2 separate regions of the Homo sapiens genome follow, and region 2 is linked to region 1. Evidence: fine-mapped expression QTL. A gene starts in region 1. The other region holds a variant in brackets. All regions are shown on one strand. Distances are between the middles of the regions. Region 1 holds the start of DOK3 (docking protein 3). Region 2 overlaps LOC107986489 (a long non-coding RNA gene).

What was found.
Region 2: its variant is fine-mapped to the expression of DOK3 in whole blood (INTERVAL, PIP 0.99).

What each region holds. Positions count from the first base shown.
Region 1 is chr5:177,508,435-177,511,344 of GRCh38, reverse strand. It overlaps DOK3 (docking protein 3), which reads left to right and starts at 1,519. Exons shown (of 6, transcript NM_001308236.3): 1 at 1,519-1,587; 2 at 1,688-1,870; 3 at 2,803-2,910. The coding sequence starts at 1,805. RefSeq lists an enhancer at 1,114-1,263 and a silencer at 1,394-1,533.
Region 2 is chr5:177,676,401-177,679,310 of GRCh38, reverse strand. All of the region lies in intron 1 of LOC107986489 (a long non-coding RNA gene), which reads right to left. Among named protein-coding and RNA genes, the nearest start is that of B4GALT7, 78 kb to the right of the region's middle. The variant G/C (reference allele first, on the strand shown) is at 1,318.

The sequences.
Region 1 (2,910 bases):
CATTGGCGGGCCAAGGAGAAGTGCTTGGATTCTCTGGTCTCCCTGGCCAGCTGTCATAGCTCTCAGGCCCACTCTTCCTGTCAGGGCTGTGATGTTTCAGGGACTTCTCCTGAAGCCCCTTGGGAGGCTGCTTCTTGCCTCAGGACCCCCACCCACTGCCTGCCTGTGCCAGCCACCTGGAGGGAGCCCTCCATTCCGTTGACTGAGGAGGCAGCAGATGTCATAGAACTGCCATTTAGGCCACAAGCTCTCCCTAAGCCTGCTCTGTGCCCAGCTCTGCTGAGCTGTGAGGACCTAGATGGGCCAGGGAGATGGCTGCCTGGGAAGCCGTCAGGCGAGGGGAGAGAAAGACGCACACGCAGAAACGTGGACGGCAGTCACAAGACCGCTAGCAGATGAGGCAGGATCTCAGCATCTGGTGAGAGGTAGGCAGGGACGGCACAGGCGGCCACACTTCCTCTGAGCCAGGCACTTTGCATGTATGGCCACATGCTCATTCCAGTGAGACAGCGGTTGCTCAAGCCATATTTGTCACTTGATATGTGGCATTGGGCAAGTTACTTAATTTTTCTGAGCACCGATTTCCTCACTGTTGAAATGGCGATGAGAACGCAAAGGATGTGGCGTCTGAGGTGGACGGAGCTTAGGGCTGCTTGGGCCACAGTGGGCACAGAGCTGGGTGCCAGGAGGCCTTCAGGACATATTTCCTGGCCAAGTGCATTCCCAAATGGCATTCCTTATCCTCTTCCATGTTCTCTCCCAGAGGTGGTGCTGAATGACCTGAGGCTGTTCCAGAATAAAGGTATACACACAGCCCCGCTATTGGCATCTTGCTAGGCAAGCCAACAAAAGGCGCCCCCAGCAGGAAGCAAAGCTTTAAATGAACATGTGACCTCTCCGGGGCCCCCTGGGACCTGCCACCCACACTCACGTGGTTGGGGCCATTCAGGGCTGTGGGTCCCATGTGGACTGGATGCCCAGCGTGAGTGTATACCGTGAGGGCCTTTGAGCTCTCGGACAGCGTGGAGTGGTCAAGGGAGGCCTCCAGGAGGAAGAGGTGGCCAACCGCCCCAGGCAGCACAGTGGTGAGGGGGCCCTGGAGGGGCTGGCCTGGGGGAGATGCAGGCCAGAACACACAGGTCCCTGAGTGTTGGGCTGAGGAGCCTGGGCTGCACCCCAGGAAGGGGAGAGACAGGTTGGTCTTGGGTTGTGGAGAGTGCTGCATGGAGGCCCAGTGGGGCAGTGGCCCCTGGGGGGATGCCAAAGGCTGGTGATGTTCAGTGGCTCGTGAGGTGGAGAGGAGCAGGTGAACACGAGAGAGATTTCAGGGAGAAAGAAAAGCAGCAAGATGGGGTGAGGCGCTCAAACCAGGACGCCGAGTGGGAAAGCCAGGAGTTGGCTAGAGAAGGGTCCTGGGTGGAGGCAGGGCCAGGGAGTGTCAGGCCCAGGGTGCGCAGCTGCCCGGGGCGGGACGGGGGAGGGGCGGGAACTCATGACTCGGGGAGCCAGACTGCGATCAGACGCGCGTGCCCAGCTGAACCAGGTGCGTGAGAAGGCTGCCTTCAGGTGGCCGGGGGCTCCCTCCAGGTAGGTGTGGGCACCTTGGGCAGCCAGAACCCCAGGGAGGAAATACATGCTGCCCCCAGCCCCTGAGCTGAAGACAGGCTCCCCTCCCCCCGGCCTGCAGCTGTCTCTAGACGGAGGGACGGGAAGTGGCCAGAAGGGGAAGTGTGAGGAGTTCCCGTCCAGCCTGTCATCAGTCTCCCCAGGTCTTGAAGCGGCGGCCCTGCTCCTGGCCGTGACCATGGACCCTCTGGAGACCCCTATCAAGGATGGCATCCTCTACCAGCAGCATGTCAAGTTTGGCAAGGTGGGGACCCCTGGCTGCCAGGCAGCTGCCAAGGACCAACAGTGGGTGGAGAATGCAGCCTCTGCCCCTGCCTCGGACAGCCCAGGCAGACCTGGGAGACTTGGGAAGGGAGTCAGGGTGGAGGATCCCACCCAGGTATGGGGAGTGGAATGGAGTGCGGGTGTCAGCCTGAGACGGCAGGGGCTGAGCAGGCTCTGCCAGACCCTGCCTCCGGGAGAGATGGGAAATACAGGAGTGGGAGAGGGTCGAAGGCTCAAACCTCCCAGCAGGGAAGAGCTTCACAGCCTCTGACCCATGAAATAGTGCCACCGAGGGCCCTAAATAGGGTGAGGGGCTGAGCTGGAGGAGGCCTCAAGGGTGGAGCCCCTCCCTGCAGCGGCACTGTCCTGGGAGCAAGGAGGCAGGGGGTCACCTCTCCTCGGCAGCAGCCCCACACCCCCGCAGCTCAGCTGCAGCTGCTGCCCAGGCAGATAAACCGTCAGTTTCCTTTGCTCGAAGCTATTTGCATGTTTCCTTCCTTAACAGCTTGAGGCAGAGGCCTCCCTCCCACCCCAGCTCTTGGCCTGTGGCCCAAGTGCCCCTTTTTGGGGGTGAGAGGGAACCAATATAATGGCAGTGTCTGGTGGTCTGCCCGGCCACTGGATGCTTTACAAACATGACCCAGTAGCAGTCCCAGCTCGAGTTCTCATGGCCTTTTGAGAGACGACATTGATGCTTGTGGAGGTCACAGTTAGGAAAGAGCGGGCTGGGATTTGAACCCAGGGCTGACCAATCCCAAGCATAGCCAAGGCCTCCTTACCTGGCTCCCTGAGAAACTGGGGAGCAGAGGCCCGCTCCTGGCTGGGAGCGTTTGCCGAGCAGCTTGTGCTGAGCCAAGTGGCACGGACAATCTGCCACCCAAGGGTCTTCACCCTCCCGCTCCCCTCCCGCAGAAGTGCTGGCGGAAGGTGTGGGCTCTGCTGTATGCAGGAGGCCCATCAGGCGTGGCACGGCTGGAGAGCTGGGAGGTCCGGGATGGTGGCCTGGGAGCAGCGGGTGAC
Region 2 (2,910 bases), 170 kb before region 1:
GTTTAGTTCCTTTCTTTCCTACTTCTTCACTTGGACCATTCCCCTATCACACAATGCTCTTTGGAACATTTGGACAAATAATTCAACTTTAAATCAGCAATTCCACTTCTAGAAATTTAACTTAAACAGATAGATATCTGGTCCAAAGTACAAAGATGTATGTGCAAGAATGTTTAAAGTAGCAAGATAATACTGTAAACATCCTAAATGTTCATTATTTGGTGTCTTGTTGAATATGCAAGCAATGTAATACTTTGTAAATGTTAGCTATTCATATAGATTTCACTGTTACTGAAAAAGATGAACAGCATAGGAGAAAAAAGTCAACGTATATGAACACAGTTTAAAGAAAAAGCTACAAATAGCCAATGAGCACTTTAAAAGTGTCATAACTTCACTCATAATGAAGTAAAGGCAATCAGGACAAGATACCAACCTTAAATTATTGGATTGGCAACAACTAAAAAGTCTGATAACCAGTGCTTGAAGAATTTGGGGAAATAAGCACTCCCAAGTGCTTTTGTTGATACGTTATTTGGTGCAACCTTTCTGGATGACAATTTGGGAATTTCTATCAATATGTAAAACACACATCTTCTAACCCAGTCCCCCATGCTTAAGAATTTCCCGGGTCAGGTGCAGTGGCTTACGCCTGTAATCCCAGCACTTCGGGAGGCCAAGGCAGGCAGATCACGAGGTCAGGAGATCGAGACCATCCTGGCTAACAGGATGAAAGCCTGTCTCTACTAAAAATACCAAAAAAAATTAGCCGGGCGTGGTGGCGGGCGCCTGTAATCCCAGCTACTCGGGAGGCTGAGGCAGGAGAATGGTGTGAGCTCGGGAGGCAGAGCTTGCAATGAGCCAAGATGGTGCCACTGCACTCCAGCCTGGGCGACAGAATGAGACTCCGTCTCAAAAAAAAAAAAAAGAATTTCCCTGCAGATATGCTGGCAAGACTTCTTAGAAGCTCAAAGATGTTGTTGTAACATAATTGGTAATAGTAATAACAAAAATACACAAAAACCCTAGAAACAACCAAAATATCCATGATAGAAAACCAATTAAATAAATTATGGCACAGCCTAACAAATGACTTTTTAATGTAAGCTGTTAAAAAGTGACAGATATGTTTACCCTGCAGTTAGGAAATAATGCCCATGATAAATTACAAAAGGCAAAGTAAATAACTGTACAGTGTGATTTTTATGGTGTGTTAGAACAGATAAGTATGTGTAGTAAGTAAGTATGTTTTGAAGGATTTACAAGAAACTAATAAAGGTATTTAGTGTTAGGAGGAAGAACTAGGAAAGAGAGGGT[G/C]GCTTTCAACTTTCACTTTTCATTTTGTAAGTTTTGGTAGCAAGAATTTACTGAACTCACAAGATGTTTCTTTTAGTTTTACAAACTGTTCAATGAGGGATACCAAGAATGGGAGAACGTGGTATATTTTTTTGCTTGCTTCTTTGTGGTTTTCTATATAAAAGCAAATACGCTATTTTAAAATATGAGCCAATAGACAATATGGATACTATAGATCCATGTTCACTGACACAGAAAACCATAAGGACATATTAATTTAAGAAAACCAACTGTGATGCAATATGCATAGTCTGATCCCATTTATGTAAAAATTTTGCACATGTGAGTATCGGCCATTTAGAGATATCTGGAAAGATGTTATCAAAATATGATGGAGTTACACATTCTGCTTCGTAACCTTTCTCAATTGCTTTAACTTTCTCAAATGAGGATTCTTCAAACATAGGGAATGAAACAAAATTTTTACAAAGGCCTTGATATCACAGCAAATTTGAAGATGGGAAGGAAGCAGGGAGAAAGTATAAGAAAATGATTTAAATAAAGTTATGTAAACTGAGAGGCCGCCTGCTGAAGCAATCCAGTGGAAAAGCTAAGAGTGCCCTGAAACTGGAAGATTAGACCTGGAATCCCACAGAAGGGACAGAATGTTCCCTAGAGCAGGGAGAAACTTGAGCTAGCTGGCTTTAGCATAAACAAAAGCGGGTCTGCAGGCACTGACCCTGCCATGTAATGAAAAATAGAAAAAAGAAAAAATATTTTAAAGATGAATAACCACCAAAAAAAAAAAAATCCCCATTAATAAGGCAGGAAGCTTTGTATTTAGAATGTTTTTACCACAAATGATGGTTTCAAATCTCAATAGCAGGCTGCGTGCGGTGGCTCACACCTGTAATCCCAGCACTTTGGGAGGCCAAGGCAGGCGGATCACGAGGTCAGGAGTTCAAGACCAGACTGGTCAACACAGTGAAACCCCGTCTCTACTGAAAAAAAAAAATACAAAAATTAGCCGGGCATGGTGGCGTGCATGCCCAGCTACTCCCAGCTACTCGGGAGGCTGAGGCAGGAGAATCGCTTGAACCCAGGAGGCGGAGGTTGTGGTGAGCCAAGATCGTGCCACTGCACTGCAGCCTGGGTGATAGAGTGAGACTTCGTCTCAAAAATAAACAACTCTATACCAGAGCAGATATGTTATTCGATAAAGCTAAAAATGTATTTAATTTTAGTAAGTACACATGAATTCAGGTAAATACACAGAAGCAGCTCTAGAGGAATAAACATAACAGCACTGAAAAGGGGGAATTGCGAATCTGGATGGGGGAGGTGGCAAAAGGGGCCTTTAGCCTTGTCTGTAATGCTTTTAAATTTTATAAAAGAAAACCATGCACATAGTGTGTTCTATTTTGGTAAAATAGACGTAACACAAAATTTACCATTATAACCATTTTAAATATACAATTTGGCGGCATTAGTTCATTCACAAAGTTGTGCAACCATCACCACCATCCATTTCCAGAACTCTTTGTCATCCCAAGCTGAAACTCAATACACATTAAACAATAACTCCCCATTCTCCCCTTCCCCAACCCCTGAAAA